Regions from separate parts of the Homo sapiens genome. Here region 1 is linked to region 2. The links come from fine-mapping of genetic effects on gene expression. A gene starts in region 2. The other region holds a variant in brackets. All regions are shown on one strand. Distances are between the middles of the regions. Region 1 holds the start of DOCK9-DT (DOCK9 divergent transcript). Region 2 holds the start of DOCK9 (dedicator of cytokinesis 9).

Region 1 (9,882 bases), 110 kb after region 2:
AGGAGTGGCATCACTGGCAAGTGCTTGACATCGAAGAAGAGTTTGAAGTTGAACATAGTGAGATAAGATCAGTAAGGAAGCCGGGCAGCCAGAAGACTTGTATATTAATACCCAAGTGCAGGACAGTCAGCATGCCCATGCAAAGGGATGTGACCTGATATTCACACAAATCTTTCAGAGAAAGGACACTTGTAGGCTTTGAGTGGTATTAATACATCCTCTTAGATCTAGGTCATTATGATGCCATCTTTAATACATCTGAAAGACCTGAGGTAAAATCCTTTCAGGAGCTCTAAAAGTAATCATAACTCAACCCTGCTCAGGGAATTCTTTCTAGCTTTTCTTCTGAGTTCGCGTACGTTTTGAACATGCTACCTTCCTGACTATTCTAAATTATGGAAAGCTAATTCTGAAATTGTGAGGATTCTTCCTTCATTACCAAACATTATAAATTACTTTTCCTACAGTTAAAAATGTTCCTAGTAGCACCTCCACTACTTTTATAAAAGCAGCTTAGGGCTGGGTATGCTGGCTCGCACCTGTAATCCCAGGAGTTTGGGATTGCTTGAGCCCAGTTCAAGACCAGCCTAGGCAACAGGGCAAAACCCCATCTCTAAAAAAAAATACAAAAATTAGCTAGGCGTGGTGGTGCATGCCTGTAATCCCAGCTACTCTGGAGGCTGAGGTAAGAGGATTGCTTGTACCCGGGAGTTCAAAGGCTGCAGCAAGCCATGATCATGCCACTACACTCCAGCCTGGGTGACAGATTAAGATGGTCTCTAAAAGAATAATAAATAAGGCCGGGCGCAGTGGCTCACCCCTGTAATCCTAGCACTTTGGGAGGCCGAGGTGGGCGGATCACCTGAGGTGAGGAGTTCAAAACCAGCCTGGCCAAATTGGCAAAACCCCGTCTCTACTAAAAATACAAAAAATTAGCCGGGTGTGGTGGTGGGCGCCTATAATCTCAGCTACTCAGGAGGCTGAGGCAGGAGAACCACTTGAACCCGGGAAGCGGAGGTTGCAGTGAGCCAAGATCATGCCACTGCACTCCAGCCTGGGTGAAAAGAGCAAGACTCCATCTCAAAAAAATAATAATAATAAATAAATAAATAAATAAATAAATAAATAAAAAAAAACAGCTTCAAATAGAAGCCCATTGGTGGAATAAGGGACTCTAGAAAAACCGAGTATGCCTCTTATTTAACAGAGCAGGAACCTTGAAGTTCAGAGACATTAAGCAACAGTCCAAGGGGACTTAAGTAGCTGGTAGAATATACGCCAGCCACTGCCTAAGAGCTTCACCCACATAGCTCAATTAATCCTTCCAACAACAATACAAGGAAAGCATAATTATTATCTCCAATCTACAGATGAAGAAACTGAGCCCCAACAAGGTTAAGTTATATACCTAAGATTGTACAGCTGGTGAGGCATAAAACCAGGTTTACAACCCATGCTCTAAACTACTAAACCTCTAAGATTAAAACCCAGAAGTCCTGACCCCATGGAGGGTTCTCTCCATTATAAAGAATTCTGTCTGGGTGTGGTGGTTCACGCCTGTAATCCCAGCACTTTGGGAGGCCGAGGCAGGCAGATCACCTGAGCTCAGGAGTTTGAGACCAGCCTAGCCAACATGATGAAACCTCATCTCTACTAAAAACACAAAAATCAGCTGGGCATGGTAGAACACACCTGTAATCCCAGCTACTCCGGAGGCTGAGGCCAGAGAATCACCTGAATCTGGGAGGCGGAGGTTGCAGTGAGCCGAGATCACGCCACTGCACTCCAGCCTGGGTGACAGAACAAGACTCCATCTCAGAAAAAAAAAAAAAGAATTCTAAGGCTCATGAAAGAGCTAACCATGTTTGACAAGGCCTACAAAGCTTTTTTAGGTCCTTATTAGAACAAACTAACAATCAAATATTTTTTAATATAATCTGGGAAATGTGAAGAGCATACTAACAAGTTGTTAATTTTATTATGACACAGTTATGTAAGAATAGACCCTATTTTTAAGTAACATATACTAGTTATATAGAGGTGAAATGATATAAGGCCTGGGACTCACAATCACACATGAAAAATAATAGGAAGAAGAGACATATGAAGCAGGTTTGGCAAAATCTCAATAATTATTCAATCTGGATGATGAAATATGAAGGTTCATTATACTATTCTCTCTACTTTTTGTATGCTTATTTTCAAGCTTTTCAAACAAATTAATACAAAATCATTCATGAAAGTCCATGAACCTGAACACATGAAAAATGAAGCTATTGAACAATGAAAAATGGATAAGCCCACATTATGTTTACATTTTAAAGCTTGTTTTTAATGGCAGCCTTTATCATCCACTGAACTATTTCATTTTGTTGTTTCTGATCTCATGACCATCCACTCATCAATACTTGAAGTGTGGGAAGAGCTACTAAACCCACACATAGTTTAATTTTTTTTAAATCCATCTGCAGAACTGCTTTATTAGCTAGATAAGAATATTTATTGAGCATTTATGTTGTGGGCATTGTATTAGTGCTGACCCAAGTTATCAGACACAGAGTAATTATTTCCATCTAAGGACAGATGCACAGACCATGGGATTCTGAACCTGGCGTGGTTGCTGCTCTGCCTCCTGAGAAGTCCAGGGTTACCTTACCTCACCTCTTAGACCTTCATACAACAAAGCCCGGCCAGAACTTATGTGGCAGGTGCACCTGCTGTGGCTCCCTGGCAGACACTGGAGCCACTAGAGGAAGTAAGCAGTGGCAGAGTACCAGGAAGGAGGTGGGGGGATGAGGTGTGTGGGTAATTTTCAGTATCTGTAAGCCCTCCCAGATTCTTCCTTCTGCAATTCAGAACCATCACAATGCATTTCCTATTTCCCATTCAGCCAGGGGCCCTCACATGCCAGAGCAGGCCCACCTGCTTCCCTGCATTTTGTATCTGTTCCATCACAGGTTTCATCAGACAAGTGACCACAGACAGACGAGACTAAGAGTTAAGACAACAGCCGGGCATCTGGCTCTTCATGCTTAAGGGTGTCCAGGGAAAACGGATGTACTACTAAAGTATCATGAGATAACACAGTTGGCAGCCTGTCACACGTGGGAATGGACACTCCTAGGTCACCATTAGTAGGCCATCCTCCGATGGGAAGGGCAGATATTCGGGGACTACTGCACATCAGCAGTGTTGTGTCTGCACCAGCACTCCTGGGCTCCATCTACACGGCTTATTAAACCAGTACCTGCAGCACTTTGGAAATCATGGCACACTGGTACACTTTATTTACTCTTCTTCTGCCTCAAATCCCTGATGACCACGGCAGGCCCCAGATAAAGGAACCAACTTCTGTGTGAGAACAGAAAAGATGCCAAAGAAGTTGCAGGCTTTATCCTTAACATGCACTGGCAAAACTCAGGAAGATGCAGGAAGCCACACAGAAGTTAGCTGGTTATGGAAGAGATGGCCAGGTTCTGGTCTATTCCCAACTCCTGCTCTACTCCTTACCTAATCGACTTCCCTAAAATAGAAAAATTAAATCCTTGTTTACTATGGATCAAACTGGAGTTGGAGAAATTTGGAGTTGGCAGAGCTAGCAATCGAGAGAAAATTCAAACTGAGCAAACTGGATATAGAAATCAGCGAAGCTTCATCTCCAATCTCCACAAACGTCATTCACGCAATTCTGTGTCTGCCCAGGAAGGGCATCGATCTGCCACCAAAATGATGCATCCGCCCCTGTGTTAAGGGGCCCGGCACTCTGCCCCGACAATCCCCCACAGGGCCCAGACAACCACTTCCAAGGCCCATCTTCTTGCACTGTTCCAACAAACACAAGTCACACCCACCCACAAACAAGCCCGTTTCAAGAAAACAAATGCCGGCGGCAACGCAAGGAGCTGCTAAAAGTTTCCAGCTGCCCTGCAGAGCTCGCTCCTGCTCAAACGTCGCTCCACTCCCGCACCATCCAGGTGAATCGGGTTGTAGTGCGTTTCCAAATACAGCAGGACCGGCGCTGGCTGTGAAAAAGTTAATCGAAAACTTCATCTTCCTCACACCCAGAGGCCTATTCTCTAAAGACGTTCTGCCACGGGAAGATTCGTTTTGGGCTGATGGCTTTGCTTACTTAGAACCCCCAAACGTCACAGGAATTTGCACCAATACTAAATTAGCGAGGGTTCCCATCATGCCCCCCAAGCCTTCCTAAAAGGCGGCCAAACTTCAGGATACCGGCTTGGAGGTGGGGGGCGCAGGAGAGGATGCCGAAGTCCTTCCCTCCTGGAGTTCAGCCAACTCAAAGGGTTAGCAGGGGCATCTCCCACCCTGAGCGCAGACTGGATGAGGAAGCCCCCACCTCAATTCCCCTGCGCCCCTCCAAAACATGGAAGGAGAGGGAGGCCGGGGGAGGGATACGGGGGAGGGATGCGGGGGAGGGGGGAGAGTGTAATTTCCCAGTTGACAGAAAGCAGGTAAATTGGGAGAGAGCGGGGTGAAAAGAGTGACAGGGCGACATCACTCTGCGGAAATTTCCCAGGAGGAAGGGGACAGCGATGGGGACAGGATCTTGGGTGGCGGGGAGGGGTCTGGGAGTTGCAGCCCCTCCAGGACCTTCTCTTCTCCCCTGTCCAACTCCCTCCCGCCGGCCCCACCTCTTGATTCCGCGGACCCAGCAGGGTCGGCCGCTCTGCCTCAGCCCTGCCGACTAAGAGGCGCCCGGCCCGGGGCCCGCAGCTGCCTGCGCCCCCGCCATCCTCCCCCGGCCCGCGGTCGTCCCGCACTCACCAGGAGCACGGAGCCGCGCACCACCTCAGACACGCTCTGCCGCAGCTCGGCCGCCGTGCCCGGCTTACTCAGCGCCC[G/A]GGTGAACTTCCGAGTCTCCGCCGAGGCGGGGAGCAGCGGCGGCTGCGACATCCTCCTGCCCCCGCCGCCTCCGCCTCCGCCTGCTCCCGCGGCCCGGCCCGGCCGCGCGGCCGCCAGGTGCGCCCTCGGCGCCCGGCCCGCTCCGCCCGCCGCTCCCGGCGCCGCCGCCGCCTGCTCCCCCCGCTGCTCGCCGCGAGTCCGGCCGCCGCAGCCCAGGCCGCGCCCTCTGCACCGTGTCACGCCCCAAGGCGCCCCCCTCGGCGTCCGCGGCCCCCCGCGATCGCAGCAGCGCCCGGGCTCGCTCCGGGCGACCGTGCGTGTGGCGGCGGCGGCTCCCCCATGCCACCAGCCTCCCTCGGCGACCACTCGCCGGGCCGCCTCCTCGGGGCGGGGTGTCCGGCGCGGCGCGGGCGGGGCGGGGCGCCCGGACGGCGGAGGAGGGGCCGCCGCGGCGGGACGGCGGGCCAGGCAGGTCGGCGCGGCCCGGCGCTGGAGCTAGGCGGCCGGACTGGCAGGGGCGGCGTGCCGCGCGGGACCCTCACTGGGGAAGGTGGGGGGTCGGGGCCGCCTCCGCCCCGGGCCGCACGTCCGAAGACCGGAGGAGGGGACTGCGCACGCCACCAAGAGGGCGCACAGCCGAGGCTGGACGATGCGCGGTTTCGGAGCAGGGTTTCCTGCCCAGGGAGCCCGGCTGCGCTCGAGGGGACCCCGAAGTCACCGGCAGGGTCGGAGCTCGGTGCACCACGCCCCCCCTCTGCGCCCGGGGCCTCTGCGGGGACAGAGGTCTCAGGAAAGTAGCCTTTATTTATGTGGCACCGATCGGAACCCGCGGCCGGCCAGGCGGACCTGGACGGAGCGTCCCTGCTCGGAACCTGGCGCGGGGCGCCGCGCGCTCGTGTGGCGCCTCGGCCTCCCCACCGTTCAGTCCCCGGAGGCACGGAGCTCGCGGCGGGACGATGACGGTTGGGCCGGGCCAGGCGTGGGAGACTCCCAGACTCCGGCCCGCCGGGACGGCCAGCTGCGTCACCTTGGACGTGGGCAATACTTCGGAGCCTCGGTTATGTCGCCTGTAACCTGAGGACAACGGCCTGGAAGGGGCTCAGGTGACACGGCGGCCCTCACTGGGGCCGATTTAGCCGGTCTGCCGCCCCTCCGCGCCGGACCGCCAGGCGGGGTACCAGGGAAACTGCGATGCGCCGGCTTGCGAGCCCACCGTGACGCAGAGCTGGCGGCCGCTAGCGACAGCCACCCTGTGAGGGACTTTCCCCCCAATACCCTAACCGCTTTCCTGTCCCTAAGGGCCCGCTCCCGCCCCGGCTCCGTTTCTGTCTCTCTGAGGAAGCCCGGCGCAGCCTAACCCTCACAGGGCCGCGGAGAGGGCGCGCCAGGCGGGGATTTGCGCCAGGCCCGCGGCGCATGCTCAGTGGTTGGGGACTGGGCGGGTACCCCGGGCGGGGAGCCTGACTGAACGGCGGCTCTGCTGATTGGTCGGGCTGCTCACGCCACGCCCGTTGCCTTCCGATGGACAGTTCCTTACCTGCCGGGTCGGCCTCCGCAGAGAGTGGTGGTCTTGAAAACCCAGTTTTGGGAGAATACCTGCCGCGCCTCCCGCCCAAATACCCAGAGGTTTCATAGCCGCCATCGCTGCGGTGGAGGAGGCCGCCTGTTGCGTCCCACCCCACCAGAAAGCCTAACACTGGCCTGAAGCGTAATCTTAAAGTGGTAGGGGAAAATACCGATCTAGCGCAGAGAGCAAAACACCTCCGTTCTGGGTTTAATGGGCAGGTCTGGAGGTGAGGTATGCCGTCCGCACTCAATAATTACTTGCAGGATCGGATTGTTTCTCCAGTGGGTGGGGACTGCAGGATGTAGCATTGAGTGAGCCTGGCAGATTGAAAGATAAAACAAGGGTGATGATAAAAACAATTACACACTAACCCATTTCCTCCTCCGTGAAATGAGGGAATGGCCCAGACATTTTCCAGACCTCTTCTGTCCTAAGAGTGGAGCTGGGTGACAGAGCAGGTGCAAGCCGGCCTTTCCCTGCCTCCCCGGGGAACGCACTCTGTTCGGTGAGAGCAACTCAGCTCGCATTGACTCCTTTCAGCTGCAGGAGTGTGGCCGTTCAGTTCTCATTTGAACTGTTGACAACAGTTGTCTTCTGAGAATCATGAGTTAGAGCCTCCCTTTAGGCTTCTGACTCCCTCAAAAGTACCAGACAACACAAACTTTTCCCCTCTTGTTACCTTGGCTCTCTAAGCTGTATCTACTTCTATACAAGGCGAACAATTTTGTCTTTTTAAATTAAAAACAACAACAAAAGCACCTAAGGTTGTAGGGTTTTATATTCTTTTTTCTTTTCTTTTTTTAAGAGCTATATGATTACAGTAGAGTGTGTGTGTGTGTGTGTGTGTGTGTGTGTGTGTGTAGTCTAAAGAACAAAATTTCAACAAATGGTTTTAAAGATCTAATTGGCTTCTATTAGCAATGCATGAACCAGGCAGCATTCTGACTACAAAATAGACGGGAGCTCTTGTGGGAATGGAAGAACAGCTGGGTTTTGTTAAGGTAACTTAAGCAGGAACAAGGGAAAAGCATAGTGCCGAAAGCACATCGGGTAACTTCAGGTTACTCTCCTTTATGGGTTAAAGCAGAGGGGGCTGCCTTAGCTGGCTCAGGCTGACTGGGCCCCGTTTGACTGGTTGCTGTGAATCTCCTGGTTTTTGGAAAACTGGCCCTTTTGGGGATTTTCCTGTTTTTTAAAATCTCTGTTTAGTTACGTGGCACCTAACACAGTGGCTTCATTTTAGTCTGGTCTGTTGGGGCCTAGTTCAGGAGCTCAGTCCAAGACAATGACCTACCATAAATTTTATTTAAATATATGTATATCTGGAAAGTGAAGAATTCCCCAAACCTACCAATTTTATCCATATCTCTACCACTCCTAAATTCTGTACTTACTTGCTGATTCAGTATATTCTAGAATTGGCAGATTTTCATTTAGGAAGCAGAGAACAACAGACAATGTGCCAACAGTAGTCACTGGCAATGTCTAACCAAGCACAGGTTCTGACAGACAAGGCGGCATGGAAACGTGAACTAAGCCCAGGAAGATGGACCCAGCAACCCAGAGTGGAGCCTCTTCTTCCTGGTGAAGTGCTGTTGATAACAAATGGGACATTCCTAGTGTTAAAGTTTCAGCAGAAACTTGGTCCCTACTGTTCTGGGTTGAATTGTAGTCCCCCAAAAGATATATTGAAGTTCCAAACCCAGTACCTGTGAATGTGGCCTTATTGGAAATAGGTCTTTGCACATGTAACCAACTTAAGGTGAGGTCCTACTGGAATAGGTGGGCCCTAATTCAGTATGAATGGTTGTTTGTTTGTTTGTTTGTTTGTTTGTTTTGACAGAGCCTCACTCTGTTGCCCAGGCTGGAGTGCTGTGGTGCAGTCTCAGCTCACTGCAGCCTCTGCCTCCCAGGAGGCTGGGATTACAGGCACCTGTCACCACACCTGGCTAATTTTTTGTATTTTTAGTAGAGAAGGGGTTTTGCCATGTTGGCCAGGCTGAGGTCAGGTCGAACTCCTGACCTCAGGTGATCCGCCCATCTCAGCCTCCCAAGGTGCTGGGATTACAGGCGTGAGCCACCACGCCCAGCCTGAATGGTGTCTTTATAAGAAGAGACACAAATACATACACAAAGGAAAAATACTATGTGACAACAAAGGTAGGAAGGAGAATACTGCACACCTGCAAGCCACAGAACAGCAAGGATCACTGGGAACCACCAGAAACTGGAAGAGGCAAGGAAGGATTCTTCCCTAAAGTCATCAGAGGGAGCATGGCCTGCTGACACCTTGACTTCAGAATTCTAGCCTCTAGAACAGTGACAGAAGAAATTCTGTTGTTTTAAGTTTGTGGAACTTTTACAGCAGTCCTGGGAAACCAACATGCTGGCCAAAGGCTATTTTTAAAATTTCCACCAGAGTGGGCCTGGAATTGTGTGAATTCTTTTGGCATCACTATTTCCTGGAGAGCAGTCATACCTACAGAGGGGCAGAGCATCAGCCCAAAAGAGGGTGCTACCTGGCTACCTGGGATGAGGCTGACCTCTGGCTGGACTGGGTGGATGGTGTCTCAGGTACGGTAGAAGATACATCCACCTACATTAGCTTGATGGAGTAACCTCATCTTTGTTTTTCCAAACTATAGGAAGAAAGCTTTTCTTTCTGTTGAAAATTATACTAGTAGGTAGTGGAGATGAAATATAATTGCAGCCAGTTCTGAAATTTGCATGTAAATGACTGTACTACACCCAAATTTATAATTCAAGCATTACTCATGTTTAATGATAACCTCTTACTACATCATTTCCTTGTTAAGTTTGCTTTAGGATTTGTATGTGTCTTAATAACATATAATTAGTTTAAAATCTTTTCTGGATATATCTTGAAAGAGTATATCTGTTTTTAGCAAAAATAACAAGTGACCCATAAAAAGGAGGCACTCCTGTGCACTGTCACAGGGAAGTGTGAAAGGGGACTTTCGTTCTTTATTTTATCCTTGCACTGATTGAATTTTATTTATTTATTTATTTTGAGACAGATTATTGCTCTGTTGTCCAGGAAGGAGAGCAGTGGTGCCATCATAGCTCGCTGCAGCCTTGAACTCCTGGGCTCAAGCAATCCTCCCACCTCACCCTGCCAAGTAGCTCAGAGGACAGGTGCATGCCACCACGCCCACCTAATTTTTTTTACTATTTGTTGATACAGGGTCTCACTATGTTGCCCAGGCTGGTATCAAACTTCTGAGCTCAAGTGATCCTCCTACCTTGACCTCCCAAAGTTCTGGGATTATAGGTGTAAGCCACCGTGCCCGGCCTGACTGAATTTTTTTAATGAACATTCACTACCTTTATACTTCATTTATTAGGTTGGTGCAAAAGTAATTGCATCTTTTATTTCAGTGGCAAAAACTGCAATTACTTTTGCACCAACCTAAAAACTTTTTTTTTTTTTA
Region 2 (8,000 bases):
GGCAGAAAGGCTATTGTCTAAGCATAATTTAATTAACTCAATCACAGTCACCTAAAGTCTAATTGAAAATTAACAACATGATCATTGCCCATAAGCTTATACCTCACTTAGTCTGCTATTTCTAGAGCAAACAGAACTTCAGGGATAGGAAAGATTTTCTAGTCTCATTCCTCCTCTGTCTGAGAGACAGAAGAGTTCCCAGATAAGGTACTGGTGTGTCCAACCAGAAGCCAAGTCCTACTACTACTTTCTACATCAAGTACTCGCACTGCCTTCTCACAGAGTTATTTAGCTAGAGTAATCACGTGGTCATTCAAACATTAAAATAAGAACTAAAATTCTGCTTTTAACACTTGAGGATCCCAGGAAAATATGAGCCACCCAAAAGGTGTCTCTGAAAAGAAACTTTTATTTTCTTTGAGACAAGGTCTTACTCTGTCACCCAGCCTGGAGTCCAGTGGCGTGATCTCTGCTCACTGCAGCCTCAACTCTCCCAGGCTCAAGCAATCCTCCCACCTCAGCCTCTCGAGAAGCTGGGACTATAGGTGCATGCCACCTCGTCTGGCTAATTTTTGTATTTTTTGTAGAGACGGAGTTTCGCCATGTTGCCCAAACTGGTTTTGAACTCCTGAGATCAAGCAATGCCCACCTTGGCCTCCTAAACTGCTGGGATTACAGACTTGAGCCACAGTGCCCGCTGATCCTTTTCAAAAAATACCTTATGAGTACACCTAATAGGAAAATTCAGCTCTTCTCAATCTTCACATCCTTCAACCTTAAAAATTCCCAAAATAAGACCTGTGCTGCAGTCCCTACCAGCCTCACAAAAGGAACCCAATGAAAGGGCTGCATAAATGGCATATAACCCAGCCTTTTTTGGCACTTTGAAGCCACACCTTTTTCCTCTAAACTGTTGAGCAGTAACAATTAGAATAAATTGTTTCCAGGAATTACGTTAGAGTTTTGAAGGGGGGTGGCGGGTAGGGGGTAAAAATAGGTATTCAAATGTGAGCAGGGAAACTAACATGCAGACATCAAGAATATCCTGCCTGTTCCCCTGGTAGTGATTTCTAGCCCCCAAAGCCATTTCTCAGTGGGGTTGGCAGTAAGCCTGGATAGAAATGGGGAAGTTTCACCATGTGCTTCCTCCCTCACTTACTGTCACAATGCAGGGGACAAGACCCACCCATGTAGGTGCCTGTAAGTTGAACCTTGCAGCCTCTGAAACTTTATAATGTCCAAACACATATTCTCTTGGAAACACTAACTTTTAGCCGGTCGCAGTGGCTCACACCTGTAATCCCAGCACTTTGGGAGGCCAAAGCAGGTGGATCACCTGGGGTCAGGAGTTCGAAACCAGCCTGACCAATATGATGACACCACGTCTCTACTAAAAATACAAAAATTAGTCGGGCATGGTGGCATGCGCCTGTAATTACAGCTACGCAGGAGGCTGAGACAGGAGAATCGCTTGAACTCAGGAGGCGGAGGTTACAGTGAGCCGAGATCATGCCATTGTACTCCAGCCTGGGCAACAAGAGCAACTCTGTCTCAAAAAAAAAAAAAAAAAAAAAAAAAGAACAACTCCACCTCCAAAAAAAGAAAGAAAAAGAAATACTAACTTTCCCTAACACTGAACAAGCAGCCACTGCTAAGGGAAACCTTCAAAGCGGCCCTGGCAGAGGAGAAAAAACATTACCACCAATCATAAGGGCAGGAGGGAACTTATGATAGAAAGTTTCTAGAACAAATACTGGCTTGCCTACATGCTTTAAGATCTACTTACAGGTACATTTATGGTAGCCTCATTACTAATGCAAACAATTAGAAACAAATTAAATAACGATCCAATTATAGTACAGACCTAAAATGAGATAATATGCAGCCATTAAAATAATGGCATAGGCCAGGTGCAGTGGCTCACGCCTGTAATCACACTTTGGGAAGCCGAGGCGGGCGGATCTCCTGAGGTCAGGAGTTCAAGACTGGCCTGACCAACATGATGAAACCCTGTCCCTACTAAAAATACAAAAATTAGCTGGGCATGGTGGCGGGCACCTATAATCTTAGCTACTCGGGAGGCTTGAACCCAGGAGACGGAGGTTGCAGTGGGCCGAGATCGTACCACTGCACTGCAACCTGGATGACAGAGTAAGACTTTGTCTCAAAAAAAAAAAAAGGCATAAATCCACATATGGTGACAAAAGATGTTACTGACGTGTTCTGGGAGAAAATCAATCCAGAAATCTACCATAATAGTATATTCTCTAAACACATACACACACACACACACACACACACACACACACACACAAGTTATACTGTTCTAGGCACAGGAGAAAGTCTGGAAGTATATACACTGAATTATTAATAATGGTCACCACTGGAGAGTAAAAACAAGGACACTGTCTTTCCTACTGCTACACTATTTGCATTTCTTGTTTTTCCTACTTCTATACTACACGCATTAATTAATTTTATCCGTTTTAATTTATGTAATATTTTTCCCCAAGGACTGTTTCTGTACATAACTAAAAACAGCAAAACTTTATTTCAAAATGCTACCTCCTGAATAAAGCATGTTACCTACATTTAAACGTCTCTAGGTATAATGCATTCAAATGATAGACAGTCTTGGGGATTCTTACCAAGCCCGTGGGCCACTGACATTCGAACAATGAATAGTACTGCCACAAACAGGTTGCACAATGGTGTCTGCCTCCTTCTGAAAAATCATCTTGAGAAACAAGTTGCCTTTCCAGCAGTCTGTTGAACTCTTGTTTGCCAGTGGGCAGCAACAGCCACAGGTAAGAGATCTGCCCTCGGCAAAGGCCCTGCTGAAATATCCTTGCTTCCCTGATCTGACATTAGCTCTTCTTATCTTGTTTACCCTGCTGGAAGAAGAGAAACACTGCCCGATAAGAAAAAACTTCTGGTATCACTGTTGGCTTCCTCACTCCCTCACCCCTCTCTGCAGGTGCGCAGAGCTGAGATCACACTGCCACAAGCTGCTGGGCCCTGACAAGTGTTCCCACCAAATGCAGCTGTAGCCAGCACAGCTTTATCCATTGCAGTGGAAAAAGACCCCCAGAGGAACTGCCTGGAGTGAGATTTACCTAAACAAATAGCTAGGACATAAATGGCAAATTTCTTGAGCACTAGAAAGAGAAGTAAGTTTAAGAAGTCACTTGTGTGCTTAAAAAAAAAAAATTGCATAGCATCTTTCTACAGTGTATTCAGTCCTGTAGACAAATATTTCTACACAGCTGGAGAATCACTGACAGAAGATTTTTAAGAATATTCACAAGGGAACCTAAACCACACAACTTCCTCCAAGAAATCCTAAGTTACATCAGCTGCTTTAAGCAGTGAAATCCATACAGCCTGTGAGCAACCCAACAGAGAAGTGGGCTATTATATTGGCAGCAAGGAATCCAGAACAATGAATTACATTTCTAAACAATGTAGCAGAGGGTGAAGAAAAGAAACCTAAATCTCTAAGATGAAAATCTGCAGTGAAAAAGACCATGATATTTTACTAACTTTTCAGTTCAGGGTTAGCAATATAGTTTTGAAGGCAATAAAATATAGGGCAGTCTCACGAGTCACAAAGAAAGCAACTCAGTTCAAATCAAATCTGTTATAGGAAAGTTTAAGTTCAGATTCTTAGACATTAATTGAAAATTAAGTAAATTAGTAAGCAAACACTTCATGGTAACATCAACTGAACCTCCACGTTAAAGAAAAAAAAAAATCACTAAATAAAATCACTACATATCAGTTTAACAATCTCTTTAGCAGATAATTTGAAAGGCTCAATTGTCCCCCCTCTGCAGGGCATGTTGGTGGTTTTGTGCAGCTTGCTTAAAAAATTATGTGCCTTTATTGTACTGAAGAAATTCCGAGAGAAGCACAACCTACTCACTGATGATAACAACACAACCATTTTTCACATTCCTCCCCTCCAAAGTCCACCAAAGCACTTGGCTTTAGACAAATGCTGAGAGTTTAGCTGATGTTAAGAACAGAAACGTTTCTATCAGCTGGTTCACAGTTTAGGTTCTTCCCTACTTTATTCAAGGCAAACCTCCTGGTAAAATGAGTGAGAAGAACATATGTGATTTTATCCTTTCTAAACTATGTAATATTTCCAACAGTTATGTTCCTTAAAACCCCCAATGGGACCTGCCTCATTTTCTCAATAGCATAAATAACGTAGAAAAGGTTTTAATTTTGCAAAGCACATCTTTTTTCAACCCTATAGTTGCAATTAAAATATGCTTCCTGGGTTTACATTTGCAAACACTGCAGCTAGGTGGGACATAATTGTGAACAATACATAATTGTCCCATACAAAGAAACCTCCCAGAAACCATATTCACCCACAAAATGTCAACATTTCTTTCTTCACAAAGAAGAATCAAAGGGGAATCGAAGTCATATTACAGGGAAAGAGTGGAGTTCACAAGGGACAAGCAGAGCAAGTTTTGAAATCAAAGACAGGCAACAGGCGTCAACCCCGTCCACACGCACAATAAGAACCCAGCATTGGGTAGACACAGCAACACTTTGTACGAGACCCTCTTACCGGCACAGGGCCCGGGCTCTCTGCTTCCACTTCGCCCTGAGCTGCATCCTTGTATTGCAGGGGGGACTCAATCACCAGTTCCTTTTTGACACTTCTACTACTTGTCCTGCATTTATCAGCCTGCATTCTCGGCTGAAAACGCAAGTCAGAAAGTCTGCAACTGGAACAGCTGCGAGTCCCTGGCCGTGCAAGGCACAGGCATGCCAGTGGTCCAAGGAAGGAAAGGAAACTGGCTTCCCAGGCACAAGTGGTCAGCCCCGCTGGCTGGGTCTGCAGAGCCTGTGGGGTGGGAAGGCATGACAGCAAAGGCCAGCCTCCAGGGGTGTTACTACTCCATGCAAAAGGGGAGGCTCCTACTTGCTGGCCAAAGGAAAACAAACTCCAAGCTGAACAATACACAGTGTACTGCCTCTCTGATAAAGACCGGCTTTATTGTGTCTGTTCCACACAGCGTGGGCCAAATCAATCGGAATCAAAATACTGCAGTGTTTAAAAGAAAACCAGTCACAGTTAGACTCCTTCATAATTACCTTAAATCTGAAGCTCGTGGAGCTTAAGAGACAGCAAGGTTGTCTGCTTGTTCTAAAATTCTTCCAGTTTTGGAATGCTTTCATTTGTGTTATGGTTAAAAACCAAATGCCTGGCTGATGATTAAAGCAGGGAAGAGCTACCAGCAAGTATGTTCCCATAGCCTGCACCTCGTGGATACAGGTGGAGGAAATGAGTTTCACCCCGCATGACAGACCACAGCATGAAACACTTAATTTATGTACTATTTGATGCCAGAAAGATGAGGTCATCAAAACATTTTCATGGGATACCACATATCATAGTAAATGCATTTATTAAACAGAATATTACTTTAAGTCCAGATGTGTGGGTATCAGAAGGTACCCCCAGTACTAGGTGCTGAGAGGATCATACTAAAAGTATAAGGTAGAGTATCTCTCCCTTCAAAGAACTTCACATCTAGCTGGGAAGGCAAGAAGAGCAGACATCATAAATGACAAATTAATAAAATTAAGAGAGAGATGCACAAAAGCACGGGAAAATAGCTGGATCACCAACCTACGGTTCAATGGTGGTTTAGTAGCACCCAAAATATGTGTTCCTAAAAGTCTGTATTTTTATTATTTCCTCACATTTAACAGTGGAGTCTTTTTTACCTCTTGGGAAAAATTAAAACAGAGGTATTAAGGGATTTGTCTAAAAGTTATGTAGAAATGAACATTAAAGGGGGGATCAAATATTACTCTGTACTTCATGGATACCGCAGAGCTTTTCCTAGTTACTCTGAGTATTTCCTGGACATCAGGGAAGATTTAGTAACAGTAGACAACAAGCAGCAGCAGCAGCAGCAGCCGTAGCAGTAGCAGTAACAGCAGTAGCAGCAGCAATAGTAGTAGTAGTAGTAGTAGTAGTAGTAGTAGTAGTAGTAGTAGTAGTAGCAGCAGCGGCGGCAGCAGCAGCAGCAGTATTCAGTCAGTCAACAACGAGAGTAGTTATCATGTAGCAACAATAGGTGCCAGAGGAACTCTACCCAGGGAAATAACATAAACTATTATACAAGTCACAGGTAAAAGTCTCCCACTTTCCAGACAAAGGAACGCAGCCAGGAGGGCTCAGAGGAGGCAGTGGGGAGAACTGAGATGCCACCCAGTCCTCGCACAGCCGCCTCCCTCTCCTAGCACCTGCTGCAGCTGCTCTACTTCAAGAGTGAAGCTGAAGCTGGGTCTCTGCCACTTGAACACCAGGAACCCTTCTGAGTGTGAATATCAATTATGTAACGATCTCAAAGGATCAATGAGTCCATCAAATAAATTAATGGCTTCTATAATTTTTTTTAAACTACCCAATCTCTCAACCTTGGGTAGTCTTTCAGGGTTAATAGAAGTCCCCCTACCAAATCTGTGTTCCAAAATAATATTATCTATAAATTTTAAAAATCTTTCTTTGTAAAGTTACAACAGAAAAAACCCAGTAAGAAAAAACTCTCACTTACCTATAGAGTCGAAATTATAGTAAAGTAAAAACTTAGGAATGTCCTACAAATCAAAGAAAGGATGAAGCCACAAGCACAAAACAGACTAACTGAGCCTTAGTAAAGGACAGCCCAACCAACAACTCAGAAACCTTTTTGAGATGGTTCAGGAAGTTCTAAATAGTCCAGTTCTTCCTCAAATCCCCATCGCCATTAAGCCATCAGAATGTCTGGGCATTAATAAGAGAAATGCTATTCTATTTGTTATTGTTGTTGTTTGAGACAGGGTCTTGCTCTGTAGTCCAGGCTGAGTGCAGGGGCTCGATCATGGCTCACTGCAGTCTTGACCTCCTGGAGTCAAGGATCTTCCTGCCTAAGCCCCTCAAGTAGCAGGAACTAGAGGTGTGAGCCACTGTGTTCAGCCTACCCTATTTGTTGGGTCAAAATACCCTGGTATTCTGTAAGGAATGAGAAATGAACTTTAAGATATTTATTTGACAAACACTGTAAGTGCTGGCTATGGCCCATGCCTGTTCAAGCCCTACAAAGATTGTTTATTTAATCTTCATAACTCTATGTAATACTGTTATCCTCATTTGACAGATGAGGAAACTGATGCCCAGAGACGTTAAATACTTGCAGAACGTTATACAGAGAGCAGGGGCAATATGGATCCAGTGTACACACGCTTAACCATGATACTATGTTCAAACTGCTAAAAGGCACAATACCAATCACCAGTCAGCAATTAAAGACAGCAGCATCTGGCTTTAACCCTATCATGGAAGTGAAGAGGTAAAAAGGTCTTTAGATGGCCTTTAGCCTTTAAGTGCCTTGTGCAAAGCAGGTATTCATTTGATGGTAACTACTGTATTGTTGCTGTTCTCATTCCAACCTGAAGAAATTAATTTTAGTCTTAAACTCAGGGCTTTTGCTGTGTGATCTAAAATGACAATTCCACCAACCGTGTTGCTATCACACATTACAAAGCGCTTCAGCAACTTAGCATCAACCATTCTTCCCTCTCTGTGGCTTGATTATGACAGCTGCCTTCAAATATTCATTTTGAACCCCACATGTTCATGTCATGAGCCAGGCCTTCTTCTTGAAGTTTTTCTATATTTTTCAAAATGGTTAGCAATGACTATATTTTTGTTTTATGATCAAGGAAAACACTTTTAATTTGCTCTGAGTTTCCAAGTAGCCAGGACAAAAAGGAAAACATGATCAGTTCCATAATATATAACATCAAAAGGAGAAAATATATCAAGTTGTAAAGCAAGTAATTTGTTTTTTGTTTTTTTTTTTTCAAGGCAGGGTTTGGCTCTGCTGCCCAGACTGGAGTGCAGTGGTGCAATCTCAGCTTACTGCAACCTCCACCTCCTGGGCTCATGCAATCCTCCCATCTCAGCCTCCCAAGTAGCTGGGACT

Evidence for each region.
Region 1: its variant is fine-mapped to the expression of DOCK9 in fibroblasts (GTEx, PIP 0.98).

What each region holds. Positions count from the first base shown.
Region 1 is chr13:99,081,438-99,091,319 of GRCh38, forward strand. It overlaps DOCK9-DT (DOCK9 divergent transcript), which reads left to right and starts at 5,286. Exons shown (of 1, transcript NR_047482.1): 1 at 5,286-7,188. It also overlaps a transcript of DOCK9 not described here. RefSeq lists silencers at 4,618-5,097, 5,138-5,447, 5,538-5,597, 6,178-6,407 and enhancers at 5,288-5,849, 6,412-6,971. The variant G/A (reference allele first, on the strand shown) is at 4,863.
Region 2 is chr13:98,973,196-98,981,195 of GRCh38, forward strand. It overlaps DOCK9 (dedicator of cytokinesis 9), which reads right to left and starts at 4,869. Exons shown (of 53, transcript NM_001366683.2): 1 at 4,589-4,869. The coding sequence starts at 4,714.